Regions from separate parts of the Homo sapiens genome. Here regions 2 and 3 are each linked to region 1. The links come from fine-mapping of genetic effects on gene expression. A gene starts in region 1. Each other region holds a variant in brackets. All regions are shown on one strand. Distances are from middle to middle. Region 1 holds the start of MAP2K3 (mitogen-activated protein kinase kinase 3). Region 2 holds the start of NATD1 (N-acetyltransferase domain containing 1). Region 3 overlaps MAP2K3 (mitogen-activated protein kinase kinase 3).

The links. PIP is the estimated chance that this variant, and not a neighbour inherited with it, causes the effect. A credible set is the group of variants that fine-mapping cannot tell apart.
Region 2: its variant is the best candidate, but not a certain one, in a credible set for the expression of MAP2K3 in whole blood (INTERVAL, PIP 0.56).
Region 3: its variant is the best candidate, but not a certain one, in a credible set for the expression of MAP2K3 in whole blood (TOPMed, PIP 0.56).

What each region holds. Positions count from the first base shown.
Region 1 is chr17:21,281,900-21,286,899 of GRCh38, reverse strand. It overlaps MAP2K3 (mitogen-activated protein kinase kinase 3), which reads right to left and starts at 2,189. Exons shown (of 12, transcript NM_145109.3): 1 at 1,931-2,189. The coding sequence starts at 1,979. RefSeq lists enhancers at 481-540, 2,617-3,117 and a silencer at 2,201-2,730.
Region 2 is chr17:21,247,297-21,253,799 of GRCh38, reverse strand. It overlaps NATD1 (N-acetyltransferase domain containing 1), which reads left to right and starts at 390. Exons shown (of 3, transcript NM_152914.3): 1 at 390-641. The coding sequence starts at 536. RefSeq lists silencers at 389-498, 649-768 and an enhancer at 4,259-4,760. The variant C/T (reference allele first, on the strand shown) is at 2,192.
Region 3 is chr17:21,308,775-21,317,198 of GRCh38, reverse strand. MAP2K3 (mitogen-activated protein kinase kinase 3) reads right to left here. Exons shown (of 12, transcript NM_145109.3): 10 at 4,918-5,057; 11 at 3,662-3,707; 12 at 1,967-3,052. The coding sequence ends at 2,969. Among named protein-coding and RNA genes, the nearest start is that of MAP2K3, 28 kb to the right of the region's middle. RefSeq lists enhancers at 1-186, 4,595-5,212, 7,537-8,036. The variant C/T (reference allele first, on the strand shown) is at 4,352.

The DNA.
Region 1 (5,000 bases):
CATCCTTCCCCAGACCCCAAAGAGACTACAGAGTCCCTGGGCCTGAGGGAGGTCCCTGACCCTCCATCCAGCCCCCTCAACCTCATCTAGGACCTGGGTCCACATCTAGAAGTTCATTTTGGCCCTCTCACAGCATTCTCACTGCATCTATGACCCCTCTCCTTTCACAACTCTGCAACTGGAACTTTTATTTTGATGAGGCATTCTCTGCCTGGAGAGCTAAAAAGCCTCCAAAACAAACAGTGCTTCCTACCCTTCCCCGAGCTCTCCAGAGTGGAGAAGTGTCTGATTTCCTGGTTCCCAAGCTCCACGAGGTCTGTGCAGTGCAAGTCCCTCCCCAGACACCTCCCCCGTCGAGTGCCTCCCGAGTTACTCACAGTGGTTGGGCAATGGTCAGGGATCCGGCCTCCCACTTATGTAAGGCATAATTATCCAGCCCACCCGGCTCCAGCCACCATAGCAGCCAGCAGCAGGGGCCAGGAAGAGCCCATGCCCTCCCCAGGCCCACATAGGGCTCCCATTGGCCTGCACCCTCCAGAACAGAAGAGCGGCTGACCCCTGATGAAGTGCCCACTAGGTGCCCGCTGCTAGGTGCTTCCTCCTGCTCACTCTGAGGCTGCACTTCCAGCAGTGGAGGCCTTTCCAGCAAGAAGAATGGAAACAATAGCGAGATGTGTGCAGCCAGTGTACCCTGGTGAGCACCGGCTCTGCGCCAGGTGCTACGCTGAGAGAACGCCTCAGAGCTCTTTACTATTCACCACCCCACACCACACTCCCACGTCCACAGAAGCAGGTGCGATTACTTCCAATTTACAGAAAAGGAAACTGAGGCCCAGAGACACCAGGGAGCTTGCTGGGGTGAAGCAGCTGCAGGTTCAGAAAGCCAGGAGGCAGCCCATTCATTACGGCTATGTCCGGTTTGGAAATCTCTCGCACAACCCAGCCTACTGAAACTCCGACGCACCAAAAACATCCTTTCCTCTTCCTGAAAAAAAAAAAATTCCCCTTTTGCCCTCCGAGTTTCATCCTTCCCCCTCCGCATGACAAATCCTGCTGCTGCCACCTCACAAAAATTTCCAGGAAGGCCAGCTACTTGGAGAAGAGCAAATCCCTTGCACAGCCAGCACCCTGGCCTGGCGGCTGGCCCAGATCCCAGGCAGCCAGGACAAGAATAAGATGGGGTGAGAACCCCCAGTGCAGGGAGAAGCTTGCAACTCAAGACAGAGAGAGGCCGGTAGAGAGGGGGCTGTACCTTAGGGAGGGGTGGGAGGACAAGGAAGGTTCCTGGGAGCCCAGGGCTGCAGGACAGGGTGCAGGCCAGCCAGGGAAGGGGCAACATAGGGCCTATAAGGATAAGAAGAGCTGGGGGAGAGAAGGACGGGGAGTTCCGAGCTGGGGTGTAGCCAGAGCACCCGCATAGGGGGTACAGTGAGGTCCGCAACAACAGGAGCACTCTGGGGCCCAGATGGAGACTCAAGTTAAATCCCAACCTGGATACAGCCCTGGGACCCGAAGCTAGAAATGGGACTGGGTGCTGCCCAAGGACCCAGGTGAAGGCCAGTGTGAATCTCACCTGGGTCCCGCTGAGGGAGAAGACTGGGAGAGTTCATGTCCAGGCTGCAGCCATAAGGCCCAAATGAGGTCAGAATGAGGCTCCTGACTTGGATGGGGTGAGCAGAACAAAGTCCTAGTCTGGGTCCAGCCTGGGTGATCTCGGGCCTGAGTGCAGTCCCAAGGCCTAACGTGGGGGTCCAGGTGAGGGCCCAGGCGGGGGCTGGTCCCGGGACCCCGAACAGGAAGGGGTTCCGGGACCGGACGCCGCTGCCAGGTCGAGAACAGGATGGGGTGGGACCAAAGAAAGGTCGGGGTTTGCAGCCCGGCCCCAGATTAGGCGCGGGGTCAGGCCGAGGTCCCGGCCGGGAGCGCCTACCTTTGGACTGGGGCATGCTGGCGGGCTGGCTCGAGGCGGGCGACTCCATGCTGCAAGTGGGTCCTGGACGGCGGTGGAGACTAATCTAGAGGACTGCGGGCTCCACCGGGGCCGAGCACGCTCATGGCTGCGGGCAGACGGCCCAGGCCAGGCGGAGGAGCAGCGGCGGCGGCGGCGGCGGCGGCGGCGACTGCGGCGAGGACTGCGGCGGCGACTGCAGCAAGGACGAGTCCGCGACGGGCGGCGCCGGAGACAGACTGGGCAGCGCCGGGGAGACCCCGGCCGAACTGCGCTGACTCAGGCCCCGCCCCTGCGTGCCCGATTGGTCCTTTCGTTTCCAAGGCCCGTCCTCTGCCTATCAGACGCCGGCCTGTCCCTGCCTGTCAAGCACACGCCCCACCCTCCTTAGGCCCAGGATCCGGGCCCCTCCCGCTCTCTGTCAAGTCCGCCAGCCGCCCGAAAAACCCAGGTCCGGTCAGGCTCCGCCCCCTGGACTAAAGCCGCGCCCCTCGCGCTGCCCGTCAACATGCAAGCCCCACCCACTCCCGGGACCCACTGAGCCCGCTGCTCCCTGCAGGCGCCCAGGCCCAGCCCGGCACCCCCAGACCCGCAGCCCCGGCGGGTGCGATGCGCGGGCGCGTTCTCCTGGGTGCGTCGTCTGGAAAAAACCCGAGATCCCTAAAGGTGGCACGGCTGGGCCTGCCGAAGTGGGCGGGGGTTAAAAGTGCGCTGCTGGGCTGCCTCCTGGCTCTCTGAACCTGCAGCTGCCTCACCCTAGCAAGCTCCCTAGTGTCTCTGGGCCTCAGTTTCCTTTTCTGTAAATTGGACCCGGGTTCGGATCCGAGTCGGCAGCTTTGTAGCGGAACTAGCCTTGGTCAGGTGGTGACACCTGAGCCTCAGTCTACGCATCTGTGAGCGGGCGGCGGTGACAGCTATCTCCCGGCGCTGCTCGCTAACACGCACTGAGGGCCTGGCGCCAGCAAACGTCGCCCGCGCCCGCGCTCCAGGCGCCCGGCCAGGGCGCGGGGTCGGTGGTGAGCTCAGCGATGCCCGGTGACGAGGCAGCACGAGGAGTTTTCGTGGCTGGTTACTGCTGCCCCTGTTCTACACAGGGGGAAACCGTGTCTCAGAGGGAGTGAGGCGGCATGCGGTGCATTTTATCCCGCGAGCCCCGAGGCCCCATCCTGGCTCTCTCCTGGACCTTCGTTCTCTCCTCTCCTCCTAGGATCTCAGTCTGCCCATCTGCATAATGGCTGGATGGGCCAGTCCTCCCTCTGCTCCCACACGGAACCTCGGGGGATTTCAGGAACCGCTGACCAATCTGGCGCTGGGAACAGATGACTCTGGATGTAAAGCCAGGGCTAGTGAAGGCAGAATGTACCAGGCAAAGGTCAAGGGGTCAGCCCCTGGCCTCCAGGCAGACATGTGTACCCTGTCAGGGACCTCACGTGAGGGAAGCAGATTCCACCACCTGCTAGAAAGGCTTGAGGCCGGGCCTGACCTCTGCTTGCCCAGGTGTAAAGTGGGGGTGATGCAGGGCCCCATGCACAGAGTGGGGAGCCACAGGAGATAAGAGGGAAGCCTTGCAGCCATCACCATTCTCTTCCTGCGTCTCCTGTTCACCCTTCCCAGGCAGTGGGATGGAAAATCATGAGTCTGGGGCTCAGATAGGTATGGGTTCCAATACCAATTCCTCCACTTACTAGCTGGATGACCTTAAAGAAGTCACTGAGCAGCTCTGTGCCTCAGTTTACCTATCCCATGGGGACAATAAGGTCTCTGAAAGCGTTTCATGAGTTCAGGAGTGGAAACACCTGGCCTAGGGCTTGGCACTCACTAGGTGCCCAGGAAATGTGAGTTTGAAAACACTGTGGGCTGCCTCCATCCTTGCCATATCATCCCTGGTGACCTGTGCTTATCCGTCTGTAAAATGGGCATCCAGGAGCAGCTTCCTTTCTACCAGAACTGCAAGGCTAGTCCAGCGAGTTTTCTGGGTTCAGGCACTGGCCAACAGCCTTGACTTCTGCACAAGGCCACACTCCGCCTTGTGCACTCTGCTTCTTGGGATGTTCAAGAGTCTCAGTATTGCCCCTCAAATGTGCCAGGGATGGTCCTGCCGCAGCAGCTTCACCCTTGCTGCTCCTGCCCAGAACATTCTTCCACTCAAGCCTCCTGGGGCTGGTTCCCTCTCATCCCTCAGACCGCTTCCTAAATGAACACCCCTAAGAGGCCTTCTCATCATGGTCCCCAGACTGAGGCACAACACTTATGCTGCTGATGTCTTTGTTACTGACTCAGTTTTTAACACAGCTCTCCCTCCAGACCATCCGAGCCTCATTCCCTGCTGTGTTCCCAATGCATAGCCCAGAACCAGGCACATAGTAGGTGCCTGATAAATATTTGAGGAATGAAAAAAGGAAGGAGGAAAGCATCCACAGACCAGGGTGAAGCGACTCCAGTCCCGTGCCAACCTCCTTGGCGGCCAGATGACTCAGACAGGCCCTCGCATACAAGGAGTTTGGGGATTAGTCAGGAGCCCGATAAACAGCTCAGGAATCACAAAACTCCATGTGAGTGCTATAAATAGATGCATGAGCAAAAGTCCCAGGAGGGTGCCTGGGTGATGCAGCCATCTCCATCTGGGTGGGGACAAGGAAGGCCTCTCAGAGGAGGTGATTTTGAGACTGGACTTTTAAGGACCAGTAGGAGCTTACCAGGCAGAGAAGCAAGAAGAGCATCCCTGGAAAGGAACAGCAGAGGCAATGGGTTGGAGATGTAAAAAGGGCCACACATGAGGACCAGGTGAGGGCCAGACTGGGATGCACAGCTGCACCACTGGAGCTCAAGAAGTACCATCAAGAACCATCAGAGACAAAGGTCTCTTGCTGGCTTGCTATAGTGACATCTCTTGATTTCTTTCTGTCTGTAAGTGGCACAGTCAGATTGGGGAACTCCATGACCATGCAGAAAGCAGAATAAATGTTTGACATGGGTCACAAGAGGCTGCCTCTTACCTTGATTCCTAGGAGAAAAGTCCCAAACCTGCTCTCTGTGGATGCAGGAAACTGAG
Region 2 (6,503 bases), 34 kb after region 1:
TACTGAGCGCCCTGTGCGCCAGGGCTTTGCTATACACAGGCCGTGCACACAGCAAGTGCTTAATAAATGGTGGCTGCCTTGGGGACGATTAGAATGTCCATACAAAAGATTGTTACGTCTTTTTTAGAAGGCTCCTTGCGGGGGTCCCAAAGTTGCACGTGGGACAAACGCAAGACGGAAAAGTAGCCGGCGCGGCGCGGCGGCGGCCCGTGTTGTTTTGTTTGGGGCTGCGAGAGGAACGCGGCCGGCGCGGCCCCTTTAAGAGGTGACTGGAATGTATCAAAACAAAAAGGCCGCGCGTCCACTGGCTGCGCGCCGCACGTGACCTCACAGCTGATTTCCTGGCCCCCCCCCCACCCTTTTTGTTGCTGCCGCCGCCGCCGAGTGTCACTTTCAGCGCCGCCGCCTGCGGTCTCCCAGGCCGTAACTACCCCACCGCCTGCCGCCTGCGCCCGCGCTCCAGCCCCGCCGCGCGCCTGACCTTTCCCCGCGCGCCCCGGCCCCCGCCGGCGCCGCGCCGCAGCCCCGCGCGCAGATGGCGCACTCGGCTGCCGCCGTGCCGCTGGGCGCGCTGGAGCAGGGCTGCCCCATCCGCGTGGAGCACGACCGCCGGCGCCGCCAGTTCACTGTCCGGCTCAACGGTAAGGCGGCCCCGGCCCGCCCCGACCTTTTGTCTGCGAGCGAGCGGGGCCCGCCGGGGCCGCCCCCTTGCTGGGTGCCTGTCCCCCGCGCGCCCGCGGCCCGGCTCCGGCCCGCCGCCCGGGAAGGCTGTTGCAAGCGCGCGCCGCGGGGTGGTCCCGGGCGGCCGGAGCTCCGGGCGCGGGCCGGGTTGTGCTCGGGGCCAGGTGGGGGCGCGGCCGGCGCTCCGGGAAGTGGAACGGGCTGGGCGGGGGCAGACTTCCCGGGAGAGCAGGGGCCAGGGCGGACAGGGGCCCCTGGAAAGGCAGAGGCAGGAGCTGGGGCAGCGCGGGTCCCCTGTCTCAGCCGCAGGGGACCCGCACCTGCTCAGGCCCACTTGTTCACGACTGTTGGGCACCCACTGAAGGCTCCTGTTTGAGATCCTGGAAAGTTGGTCAGCCGTGACCTGTCCCCTTCTGCGGGTGGTATATGGCTTCCTGCTGCCCCTGGGAATCTTAGTCTTTCTACACGGGGGAGGCCTGCGGACCTGGGGCTGACCGCGAAAGGGGCTTGTGGTCCCCTGGGGGGAGTGAGGGGCGGGGGGATGGCTATCACTATCAAGACTTCAGTGGCTCTGGGACTGGCCATTTGCCTCACTTCTGTGTGCCTTAGTTTCTCCCTCTCTGCAATGGGAATAATACCAGTGCACACCCCATTGGCTAGTTGTAAGGATGAAAGACTGTAACAAATGTAAAGGATCAGACCAGCTCATGGGGGATTAGTAAGTGCTGGTAAACGTGGCCCGATCGTGATTCGTGAAGCCAGAAAGCAAGGGCAAGTTCTCCCTTAGTGTAGAGAAGTTTTTGTTTTTTGAGATGGAGTCTCACTCTGTCGCCCAGGCGACACAATGTTCCTGTGACACAATCTCGGCTCACTGCAACCTCTGCCTCCTGGGTTCAAGTGATTCTCCTGCCTCAGCCTCAGGAGTAGGTGGGATTACAGGCACCCACCACCATGCCCAGCTAATTTTTGTATTAGAGACAGGCTTTCACCATGTTGGCCAGGCTGGTCTTGAACTCCTGACCTCAGGTGATCCACCTGCCATGGCCTCCCAAAGTGCTGGGATTACAGGAGTGAGCCACCACGCCCTGCCAGTGTAGAGAAGTTTTGATTAGCCCATCCCCCCTCAGGAGGTCCCACAGGTAGGAAATAGAACTACAAAAACAAGGGCTATGAACTCCCTGTGGCCCACCTCGCCCCAGTGGGAATGTCCAAGCTGGACCGGTCCTTAGGGGCCACTGTGCCCATTTTCAAGAAGGGAAGGTGGAGGGCCAGGAAAGGGAAAGGCTTGCGAGAGGTCAGGCTGAGAGTTGGGCAGAGCTGGGATGGCGTCCTGACTGGTCTGACTCCCTGAACGGTGGGGCTCCTGCGACCCACATTTGGCTTCAGCCAGGAGGGGCCTCTGCCAGATCTCCGATGCCATTTGGAATGTGCCGAGTGTCGAGCCAGGCCCCACTACAGCTTCGTGGATGGGACTGTCACAATACCCTGACAATGTTGTGACATACCACCC[C/T]GTGTTACAGATGAGGAAACTGAGGCTAGGGACCTTAGGAAGTGATTGCCCAGCATCACCCAGAACTTCACCATTGGCCCAACCAACCCTACACCACCAGGCAGAGGCAAGTCCTGCTACTGCTGTGGTGCTGGCAGGGCTCAGCTGGCCAGGACACTCGGGGCCCTGGCGACTCTGGGAGAGAGGCCTCATGGCTTTCAAATCCTCTCTTCTGAGGTTCCAGAGCGGCCTCTGGTTCCCTTGTGGGCTCGGGAGGGCCATTATACTCAGAGACAGAAAGAAGAGGGGATACGTTTGTTTTTTTTTTTTTTTTTTCTTTTTCTTTCTCTTCCAAGTGGGTACAGCCAAAGGACAGCCCTCCAGAGCTGGCCGTGGTCAGGGCTGGACATGCCCAGCCGTATTTCTAAACTTACCCCCTTCTGGAATTCACTGCCCAGATAGCTGACCACAGATGTGGCTGGGCATCTCCCCAGCCAAGCCCAGGGGAGAAAGAAGAGAGAGGCCAGAGGCCCCCAAGGGAGTGGCTGTGCAGCACAGGGTGGGGCTCTTCTGGGCTTCCAGGCCCCACTGGGTTTGGGTGTGTGTCTTGGGACCAGAGAGGGGTCGTCTGAGTCTGAGCCCAGGCCTCCCTGAGCTGAGGAGGACAACAGGCTGTGGTGTCATTCCCGACCTGTAAGGCAAGCCTGGAGGCTGGTGCTGTTGTGCCCACTGAGAGATATAAACACTGAGGCTGAGGGGTCAGGTAGCCCCAGGCTCCTGGTGCAGAAGTGTTCCTAGGCTGTCCACATAGCACAGCTAGGCTGATTCTCTTCCTGCGAGCTCTGGTTCTGAGTGAGGGAAAACGTTTGAGCACCTTTGTTTATTAAGCATTTACAGTGTTCTAGGAGGCCCTGGGCACCTGGAGTCACTTTATTTCATAGCCACACACCACAGGGAGAGGGGAAACTGCATTTCCCATATACAGATGGGGAGACTGAGGCATGGGGAAGTGAAATGACTTGCCCAAAGTCTTGCACCACAGAGGTGGAAGAGCTGTGATTCACCCCGCAAGTATTTGTTGAGCACCTACCATGTACCAAGCACTCTTTTAGGTGTCGGGGTCTCCTGGGGCTGACAGTTTAGAGAGGGAAATGGACAAGAAATAGAGTCAGTTTTAAAGTATCCTGGAAAACAAGGGCTTTCATGAGAGGTGCAGGGGGCAGAGGGGAGGCTGTGTTGGGCAGGGCTGCTATTTACAATCATGTGTCTAGGAAGGCCCCTCCCTGGAGGGTGGCATTTAAGTGAAGACCTGAAGGAGGCAAGAAACAGAGCTGCAACAGGGAAGAGTGTTCCAAGTGGAGGGAATAGCAAGAGCAAAGGCTCTGCAGTGCCTGCGATGCCTTGTGTGTGCAGGATGGGTCAAGAGGTCATGGGGAGCAGGTGGTGCAGGGCCTGGAAGCCGTTGTCCTATGGGCTCGGCTTTGACTCTGAGGCTCCCAGGAGGGTCCTGAGCAGAAGACAGATGGGATGCCCCAGCTCCCTCTAGCTGCTGCTCTAAGGGGAGCAAACTGTGGGGACCAGGACAGAGCAGGGAGGTGGTTACTTTACTAGTCCAGGCACTGCAAACAGGCGTGGGAGAAACGTCTAGATCCTGGACAGATGTGGAAGGAAGCATGGCTGTGACTTGCTTGTGGGTGATGAGGGAAGGCTTGAGCTCAGGCTTGTCTGATGCCATATCCTGGTTCTGAAATGCAAGCTTGTCATTACTTTATAGATGGGGAAACCAAGGCGCACAGCCTGTAGGCAGCTAAGCCAGAATCAAGCCCCCGGCCTCCATCTGAGGACGGTTTCTGAAGGTTGGAGGCAGCTGGAAGAGACCCCCACCTCCTGGGCAGCCCCTTCCTTAGCCTTCCCTTTCCCTCACAGGCAGGGCTGAGTGTCCCACTTGCTGCAAGGAAAGGAACACTTGAGGGGTGCAGAACCCTGGAACTTTCTGCGTCCTCCCTAACCCCCATTTTGCAGCCAGGAAGACTGAGGCCCCAGAGAGTCAGCTGCTGCCCCTGGCCTCCCTCAGCACCCCTGGATGCAGTGGAGCTAAGATCACAGCCCCAGGCTTTGGGAGGTGCTCAGATCACAGCCCCAATATGAGGCCGCTGGCTGTGTTGGGCTGGGCTGGACCAGGGTCCTCTGGGGAGGGGAGGGACGTATGGTTGAGCTTCTCCAGGCTCACAGCTCCCTCTGCCTAATCTACCAATGAACCACCAACATGTGGCACCTCCCTGATCCAGGCTCTACTTACAGAGGTGCCAGAAAAGCCGGCCAGGGTGTCTGCTTGTCCTTGTCCCGTGCCACAGCTCTGGCGCCTGGGCTCTGCCTCCGTCTACCTCAGTCTCCTCATCTGTATATTCGCGTTTTGATCTGCCAGCTCTCCTTGCGGGGTCAGTGTGGGCCGAGTGGAGAAAGCAGAGGTCAATGTCTTCTGCAGACTCCACATCTCCCAGAGGTCCTGCCCCTGTCCCCTGTCTGCAAGCTTTGGTCTTTCTCTGTGATCGCCTCCCCTGACAATTTCCTGGCCCCCTTTGGTCCCGAGGTTCAGGAGGGGCAGAGAGAGCATGGGGGTGCAGAGACCCAGGGACGGGTCCCCCACGAGCAGTGTAGCTTTAACTTTTCCCAAACCAGTCACGTGATGCTGGTGGGGTTCTCAGGCCCAGGAGGGAGGAGGGTGGTAGTGATCATCCAGGGACAGGTGAGGTCTCTGGGGCAGAGGGGTGTCAGGACTGGCATAAGATCACCTGGCAGAGTTGAGACTGGAACTGAGGGCCCTGCCCTGCCCTAGGCTTGCTCCTGTGGCTCCCAAGTGACAAGTCTTGCCCCCCTGTGCTAGTCTGAGGTCTGGAGTTCTCAAGGCAGCTCTTAGAGCTGCCCAGATAAGGGCCTGGGCCAGGCCCAGAGGCTATGCCTATGTCACTGTGAGCCGAGACAGCAGGATCCACAGTGCCCAGAAGTGAAAGCGTGGCTGACAGTGCTACCCTGGTGTCCTGCTGTCCCATCATGGGGGCTGCGGGTGGTCAGGGGAGGCTTCTGGGCACGTGACCTTTGGGCTCACCTGAAATGAGAAGGAAGGGTCCCCGGAGGCCCTGGGCAGAAAGGTGACAGGCAGGGGAGCAGCCACCAAGGCAGGGAGGCCAGAGAGGCAGCTGGACCCCAGGCATGTTTAGAAAGCCATGTCCACGGTCCTGCCGAGGGTCAGGTCAGATGAGAAAAGGTGAGGAGGAGCCAAGGACCTTGGTCAAGCTTTGGGGACTTGGGCATTTTCCTGGGATGTCCAGGCAGGTTTGGGGCAGGACAAGGAGTTGAGCGTGAGGACCGGTATTGCATTTGTGGCCTGTGTCATGGGTGTAACACTTGTGACTGGGTGGCCTTTGAAGGCCCTCCAAGGTGGGGTTCAGGTCCTGGCCAGATGCTCCGAGGTTGCTGCCCAGGAGCCTGGCTCCTCGCTGGCCCAGTGCCATGTGGTCTGGCCCATGTAGGGTGTCCATTTAAACTCGGTCTTTTCCTCACATACAGCCCCACCACCACCGTGGCCACCCCAGATGCCCTCTGTTCCCCTTTCAGCCTGAAGACCCTCCTTTGACTCAGCCCTATCCCCAGTCAACTCCATACACCTCCGTGACTCTCATTCCAGGTGAGCCCAAACGTCACCTGCCCAGAGGCCTCCCCTGACTGCCCGCAGCACCCATGACGGGACAGCAGGACACCAGGGTAGCACTGTCAGCCACGCTTTCACTTCTGGGCACTGTGGATCCTGCTGTCTCGGCTCACAGTGACACAGGCATAGCCTCTAGGCCTGGTCCAGGCCATAGGCCCTTATCTGGGCTAGGCTCTAAGAGCTGCCTTGAGAGCTCCAGACCTCAGACTAGCACAGGGGGGCAGGACTTGTCACTTGGGAGCCACAGGAGCAAGCTTAGGGCAGGGCAGGGCCCTCAGTTCCAGTCTCAACTCTGCCAGGTGATCTTACCCCAGTCCCGACACCTCTCTGCCCCAGAGAACTGACCTGTCCCGGGATGATCACCACCACCTTCCTCCCTCCTGGGCCTCGGTTTCCCCATCTGTACATGGGGCTGTGAGAATCGTGTTTAGTGGGATGGTTGTGAGGATCGTTGTGTGGAGAGAGCAGAGCACGAGCCTGCCCTGTGCTGGGGCTGCACACGCTTGGGCCACCACCGCTTCTGTCCTGCTGTCTCCTGGGAGCCACAGCCTGAGGTGCAGGCCTGGCTGTGGGAAGGCCAGCATGCTGGTCCAGCCAGTTGTCCACAGGTCTGCCACAAGGCCC
Region 3 (8,424 bases), 29 kb before region 1:
GTAAATGTTAGTGACCTGCGCACTGGCTTCCGCACTCTGATGGCTGGACACGCTCTGTAAAAGCCAAAGGGTCCCATAAATGGCAAGGGAACTGCAAACGACTGGGGCTGCAGTCGTGCGCGGAGGAGCCTGCTCTCTGTGAAGGGCTGCGGCATCCAGCCAGGCCTGCGGCGTCCAGCCAGGCCTGCGAGCCGCGAGGGGCGCGGTGGCCTGCGGGGCGCTGGGTAACTTCAGGGGCGCGCACGGTAAATCTCTAGGCGTTGGGTCTGCTGCTGTCTGCAGGCTGCAGAGTCCCCGGAAGCCCCGAGGGCCGGGCCAGGGGGTGCACACGGGCAGGACAGCCGCAGAGGCCGAGAACTGGGCTGACGCGTGGCAAGCCCGCGGCCTCCAGCTGCGCCGAGGACGCACGAGGACGCGGACGGGCGCTCGGGGCCGGGCGGGGCTCCAGGACACGCGGTTGAAGCCGAGCTCTACCGCCCCCTGGCGGCTACAGGAGACAGAGCCTGGGGCCGCGCCCCGGCAAGGGATTCATTCCCTCCCTCCCCCCTTCCCTCCCTCCCTCATTCATTCTTTCATGTGTTCATTCAGCAGAAGCCGAGCGCTCCCTCGGTGTCGGCAGCATTCTCAGCGCTGACGACACAACAGTGACAAGTCAGGTCTCGGCCAGGATAACCCAGGATAATAAGCTAGATTGGCTGGGCCTAGTGGGCGGAGGCTGTTTGAGCCAGAGTGGTCCTGGAAGACCTCGCTGAGGAGGTGACATGGGAGACCGGGATGGGGTTGGGGGGAGCCAGCCACAGGAAGACGGGGGAGGGGGTGTTCTACGCAGAGGGGACAGCCAGTGCAAAGGCCCTGGGGTGAAAACAAGTCTTCATGATTGAAGGATGGAGAGAGGGAGACAACAGCTCCCAGGAACTGTTCGCCCCTGTGCCAGGGAAGGGTTAGTGGGCAGAGACCTGTCCCAGACTGGGGCTGGAGGACAGGAGGAGTGCAGAGACAGACCCCATGGGGACCCTCCTCCTGGGAACACACCCTAAGCTTCCTCAGAGGACCACAGAGACCCTGCTCTCAGACCTTGAGCTGTAGTGGGCGGAGTCCCCTCATGCCTGACCTGACCTGAGCTGTCACACCCACCCTCCTGGCCTGGGGATGAATTCGACTCCTTCCCAGCTGGTAAGAGCCAGTCCTGGGACTTCAGGAGTACCCTGGGCACGGTGTGCCGAGCTCTTGGAGTCCCTGGGTCCTGACTGGTCCCCATGAGGGGGTGAACCTGAGACGGATGAACAGCCAAGGTGGATGCAAGTCCTTCAGGCCATCAGCTGAACTTCGAACCTAACGGTACCTGAAGCTGAGCACACCCGGCTTACGTGAGCAAATTCCCTGCTGCCCCAGCCATGCTGCCAGCGTCACAGGGCCAGACTGCAGGGCGCCTTCATCAGGCTGCCCCTACTCCCCTCGGAGCCTTCTCCGGAGCCCACCACCTGTCCCCAAGTCTGTTTTTCTGTCTTATAAGCTGTGTGGCTTTGGGTAAGTGATGTCAGCTCTCTGGGTCTGTTGTTCCCATCTGTAAACTGGAGGTCAGGTAACCTCCATGAGGTCACCGTGTCCAGCCCAGGCAAAGTGTGCAGGGTGCTCGCTGCTCTGTGACCTGGCTGTCATCACTACTTCAGGACAGTGGGATGGGTGGCCGCCACCAGCAGACTGGACCTGTGTGTTCGCTGCTCTGTCCAGTGTCAGTACAGGGCCTGGTGCCTGGATGATCACAGGATGTTACCTCATCACAGCCCTCTGGGGGCCTCTGTGTCCTCAGATGTAGAAGGGCCTGGTAGGTTGGCAGTCCTCCCTCCCCTGAGCACGACACCCTGCCCCTGGCCCAGAGACAAGGGTCCCTTGAAGGGCCACAACCTTCCCCAAGTAAGAGGGGGGCTCACAGGTGTCATACACAATCTCACACAACCTTTAGTCCTTTTTTTTTTTTTTTTTTTAATTAAAACAGCAACCAGGTAACTGCCCCAACCCATCAGGGAAAGGACCCGGGATGGGCAGTCGTTTTTTCAAAAAAATATATTTTCTTTTTTTAAAAACAACACCAAAGCAAACCCATAGCCCCTGTCAAGCCAGTCCTCAGGGAGAGTGAGCTGGAAGGCTCCCCCTGCACTTCTCTGAGCAGAGATCTTGGGCCCCTCCCACTGGACCCCAGCCTGAGCAGAGGGCAAGGCTCTGCCTGCTGGTACCCTAGGGGGTGGGGGAGAAGCGATCAGCTCCAAACCATGCAAGAAAAACAAGCCAAACCCATAAAGCAAAAGAAAAAATCAACAGAGGATAAATTAAAAAAAACACGAAAGGTGAATGACACCGATAACGGTGGCGGGCAGGACTGGGTGAGCCAGTGTGCTCCGCAGAGGCCCTGTTTGCCAGTGCCAGGGGAAGGCCTTGGGCGGCTCATGGCATCTCCCTCATGGGAGTCTTGGGGTATTCACACAACTCATCCCCTCTTGTGTACCCCGCACCAAAGCCGGGATAGAGGTGTGGCCACCCTGGGCCAAAGTGTGCAAAGTCCATTCAGTCGAGAGATTAAAAAAATATACAACTTGGATGGCATCCAGGCTGGGCAAGGCGGTGGCCCATCCACCCAGGCACTGGCAGCCTGCTGTGCAGGGGCAGCAGCATCCACAGGGGGCATCCAGGCCCCCTCAGTCCAGGATCTCAGCAGCTGGAGACGGGTCCTAGGAGCAGCAGGGAGAGGCACTGGTGGGGCCGACAAGGGCCTGGCTGGGAGCCCCAATGGTCTGCTTCTTTGGCACTTGGGACAAATGGCTCGCCACAGAGCCAGGTGGGAGCAGCCCCCTCGGTTCCTCCCAGATGCCCTGGGCCAGGATGGCAGTAGCTTATGGTGTGGGTGAGCACTGCCCCCGCAGATGGGGCTGTGGGGCTCTGGAGGGCCGGAGTGGGGTCCGAGGCCCAGCCCCTATGAGTCTTCTCCCAGGATCTCCTTCACGAAGGCAGCAATGTCCGTCTTCTTGGTTTTGTGCAAGGTGAAGAAGGGGTGCTCCTGGGGGTGACAGAAGGCACAGTCACCATGGAGGGGTAGCGGGAGGGAGAGGTGGCCACTCTTCCCCAACCAGCTCCAGCCCAAGTGTTCTCCTGACTGGCAAAATCCTACTCATCCTTCTAGGACCTCCACCCCCAGGAGGCCCTCCATGACTGTCACAGATGGCATCTGTGGCTCCTCCTCAGCTCTCTTGTGGTCACTCTCCAGCCACACTAACCTCCCTTTCCCCCCACACGTCAGGCCTCTGCCCATGCTGGACCTTCTGCTTGGGACAGCCTCTCCATCAGGAGATAACCCTTATTCATCCTTCCAGGCTCAGTTCAAATGGTACCTCCTCCATGAAGCCTTCCCTGATGCCACCCTTGGCCCCTCTGCCCCATTCTGTCACACACTGCCTGTGTACCCTTCCCAGGGCCTGGCATGCAGGAAGGAGGGAGGAGGGAGCCAGGTATGCAGGAGCAAACAAATGACCGAGCACCTAAAGGAGAGAACACAGGGCCAGCCAGAGGAGCTACCCATCTGTGTGCAGGATGCAGCCCTCTCCCCAGAGCCCCACCCAGCCCCAGCCAGCCCTGAAGAGCAGGGCAGGCACCTCCCGCCCATACTCACCATCAGCTCCAGGTAGCTCATACGCTCTGCGGGGTTCTTCCTCAGGCTAGGAGAGAATAGTGCAGCTGTGGCCAGGCTGGCAGGGAGGAAGCCCAGCCCCCAAGGGCCAGCCAAACCACCCCAGGATTGCCCCAGGCCTAGCAGCAGGGGACACGTGCACCCAGGGAAGAAGGGACAGGACTGTCTAGGGCTTCTTCCAGGGTGGAGGGGCATTCATAGGAGCAAACTAGAGACTTGCAGCAAGTTTCTCTGGCTCCTGGGGTCCTGGTTTTCTTGTCTGCATAGTGACCTAGGAATTTCCATATCAACACCAAAATGGGGCTGCAATGCTCTGCCTAACAGTCACACACTTGGTATCCTCAATCAGGAGAGAAACTCCTTATCATGGGTTCTGGGAGAAGTTAGTCCACAATTAAAGGGGTCAGACTGCCCAGGGACTCTGCTGGGCTCCTCTGTTGCTGATTATGGTCAACAATAAAAGTGCGGGGACCATGGGTGTGAGCCACCGCACCCGGCCGCTTCTTCCTTACCCAATTCTTGCTCTATTTAATTAAGTTCAGAGAAGTTGCCCTCTTCCTTATTCCTTCTGTAACCTCAAACATGATTTTTTTTTTTTTTTGAGACAGTCTCACTCTGTCACCCATGCTGGAGTGCAGTGGCATGATCTCGGCTCAGGCTCACTGCAACCTC[C/T]GGCTCCCGGGTTCAAGCGACTCTCCTGCTTCAGCCTCCTGAGTAGCTGGGATTATAGGCATGCGCCACCACGCCCGGCTAATTTTCCTATTTTTAGTAGAGTCGGGGTTTCACCATGTTGGTCAGGCTGGTCTCAAACTCCTGACCTCGGGATCCGCCTGCCTCGGCCTCCCAAAGTGCTGGGATTACAGGCGTGAGCCACCGTGCCCAGCCTCTCAAACATGATTTTTATAAGGCTCCTATGGGGCATTCTTTAATTTGGTACAAAGTTCTAGATATCAATAAAAGCAAACTTGTTTTTTGTGTTCAAATTTTCCATATACTTTGTTCTCTTTTTCAGTCTATCTGATTTGTCCACTTCTGGAAGAACTGTATTAAAATCTCCCACCAAGACCATCGTTTTGTCAAATGCTCCTCATGCTCCAGCTGTTTCTGCCTTACATATTTGGATGCCAAGTCATCTGGGGGTTTATTTGCCAAAGGAATAAAGGAACAGGGCCCAGGAAGGTGCAGGGATCTGGCCAGGGAGGGGCAGTGGCAGGCGCTCAGCAGCACCCAAGACTCACCACTGAGCAGTGAAGTCCACAAACTCGGGGGAGAAACGGTCGGCTGGGAGCTGGGGGGACGGCTCCTCCACCACCTGCTTCAGCTGCTGGAACGGGGTCCCCCAGGACTCGTAAGGGAACCGCAGGATGGCCATCTCAATCTGCAGCGGGGACAGGGGGTCAGAGGCCCCGGCCCCAGATACAACCACGCTCTGCACCCAGGAGCGAGGGTTGGGGGCTCCCACCCATCCTGGTACCAGAGCCAGGCGTCAAAGCTGCACAGCTGATCTCCCTACCACATCCCAGCAGAACAAAGGCGAGAAAGCCGGGGATGCCAGCTCTTAGCTCCTCCGACCCAGCCAGCAGGACCCAGCTCAGGAAGCAGATTCAGCCCACACCGGGACTGGTGGGACCATCATAGGGTTTTCAGAAAACCTGAATTCTGAAGATTTTACAAAACAATGCAGGTTCCAGCTGCTCTGGAAAAATCTGAGGAGCTGGCAACTTTGGGCCGTAGCCTCATGAGCCAGGTGGGCAGGTCCCAGGTGGTCACAGCCAATCCCCTTCCTAACATCTGACCATCTCAGACTTCAGCATCTGCTGTCATTAATTTGGGCTGTTTTCACAGAGGAGGCACATGGGAAATGCTACACACACACACACACACACACACACACACACACACACACACACAGCTGTCTCCAAGGCCGCGGACAGAGTGTGAGACCATGAGGCTGCTTCGCCTCTGCACCCGTGAGCCTGCAGCCTCATCTTCTGCAGGGCCCCAGCAGTTTCCCTCCTAGACAAGTGGCCTGTGTGGCCACATGTGCCCTGCTGGATCCAGATTTCCTGTGGGTGACATCGGGCCGGTGGGTCTCTGTCCTCGCTCCAAGCTCCCAGCCCTGTGGTTGGCAGGAAGTCATCATGGAAGGGACGGACTAGCTAGCTTACAACCAACTCTGGGCTCCAATCATGATGACTGGATGGAAAAAACAAGTTATGTCAGCCCTGGCCCCGGCCTGGAAGAACAGAGAATTCCGAGGCTCCAGCACAAGGGCCCTCACTGCCGGCCGTCATCACCATGATGAACGGAAGAGACCTCAGCACAAACACTTGGCACTGGCAACTGGAGCCCGGACAAGACCCTAAGGACTGTGCTGAGACTGTGCCTCCCATCAGGCTAGAGGCCCTTTCCAGCTCAGACAAACACACCCACACAGGCAGGGCCCACTGCGTGTGTGTGCATGTGTGCATGCGTGTTCACAGGACAAAACCGTACCGATTTGGGGGGCTTTTCTCTTAGAATTTTCACTGACTGCAATATGTAGAGCAAGTACCCCATACGAGCTACAGGAGAAGGACCAGCGGCCATGAGAGTTATAATTAGAAAAGCAGAAGTGTCCAAACCTTCAACCTCGTACTCCTTTATTTTTTCTAAAGAGCTCAAAAAATGAAAAACAACAAAAATAGCCTCCAGACACGAAGATGTGCCATATGGTGTTTTCTGCCAGGAAATACTAAGAAACAGCCTGAATGTCCAGCGCCAGGGGCCGGCCCCACCATGGGGGCGGAGACCCAGCCAGGACCGTAGTCGCACCCCTGTGACTCCCCAGCGACAACACTAACAGGCCAGCACCCAGTCAGCACTTGCTCCTGGCCAAGGGCCATCCCCGGCATGACCCCTGTCTGTTCTGGGTGATTCCCACTGGCATCCTGAGGCTTGTGCAGTGAGTGGGAAAAAGCCAACGCCAAGAGAGCTCTGGGGCCCTTGCAGGATGGGGGGAGGCCGAGGCCAGAGCCCCACCCAGGGGGACTCTCCCGACTCTGTTTCATCAGTCGCTCCCCCAGGATGGCTGAGAATTTGAAATGGAAGGAAAACAGCAGGAACAAGGGAAACAACCCACATCAGCAGACAGGGTGACTGAATGGTGGCAGATGGTTATGGAGTCTTTGGAAGGGATACATACAGGAGTCTATTATAATTTAGAGAAATTGGCCAGGTGCGGTGGCTCACACCTATAATCCAAGCACTTTGGGAGGCCGAGGCAGGCAGATCACTTGAGGTCGGGGGTTCGAGACCAGTCTGACCAACATGGAGAAACCCCATCTCTACTAAAAACACAAAATTAGCTGGATGTGGTGGTGCACACCTGTAATCCCAGCTACTTGGGAGATTGAGTGAGGCAGGAGAATCACTTGAACCTAGGAGGCAGAGGTTGTGGTGAGCCGAGATTGCACCACTGCACTGCAGCCTGGGCACCAAGAGCAAAACTACATCTAAAAAAAAAAACAACAAAAAAAACAAAAAACAAAAAAAACAGAGAGAGAGAGACAAATATGAACAACATGTAATGCTACAAAATTTTTTTTAAAAAGTTTTTTAAAAAGAAGCATTACGAGGCCAGGCGCAGTGGCTCACACCTGTAATCCCAGCACTTTGGAAGGCCAAGGTGGGTGGATCACGAGTTTGAGACCTGCCTAGCCAATATGGTGAAACCCCATCTCTACTAAAAATACAAAAATTAGCCAGGCATGGTGGCGCACGCCTGTAGTCCCAGCTACTCGGGAGCCTGAGGCAGGAGAATCACTTGAACCTGGGAGGCGGAGGTTGCAGTAAGCCGAGATCGCACCACCGCGCTCCAGCATGGGTGACAGAGCGAGGCTCTGTTTCAACAACAAAAAAAGAGAAGCATTACATATTGTTTGTATTTCTCTAAATTTTAATAAAACGTATTTTATTATATGTAATAAAAATATTATATATATAATATAATGCACAATGTTGGCACTGAAACGGGGTAAGAGGTGTCTCTAGGTAGAATAACTACAGTCATTTTCCCCTTACTGTGCCTCTATTTTTATGTTAGGTTTCCACTACGTTTGTAACTTGTGAAAGAAAAACCTAACCTGTGCCTAAAGTGACCACCTCCGCCTCCCGCTGTGTGCACCTGCTGATCCTCCATTAAGCCGGGAGCATTCCCTGCCCTTGAACCTGGGCTGGCCTGTGACTCGCTGACCAACACAATGAGGCAGAAGTGATGCTGTGCCAGTTCCAGGCCTAGCACTTCAGAGAACTTCCTTTTAGATGCCAGCCATCATGAAAGAACTCCAACTCTGCTGACACTGCCATGCTCTGAAGCCCAGGGAGCAGGCCAATGTGAGTAAGTTGCATGGAGAGGCCAGGCAGAGGAGGCCCATGTTTGTGAGGCCGTCTTGGGCCTTCCAGACCAGCCCAGCCCAGCCATGACCCCAGCCAATCCCAGGTACAGCAGAAGAGCCATCCAGCTGAGCCCAGCCACAGTGGTGGAAACATGAGAAATAAGAAACCGCTGTTGGTTTGGGTCACTAGGTTCTAGGGTGGTTTGCTATGCAATATTTGATAACTGAAATATACACTTAGCACACACTTGTCCAAGTTCCACCAGCCATATCAGAAGGCCACTAGCCATGGTGGCCCCAACAATCATGATGGATGGACAACTGGAAGGGAGACAGGGAGATGGGGAAGGGACATAGGGTGTGTGTATG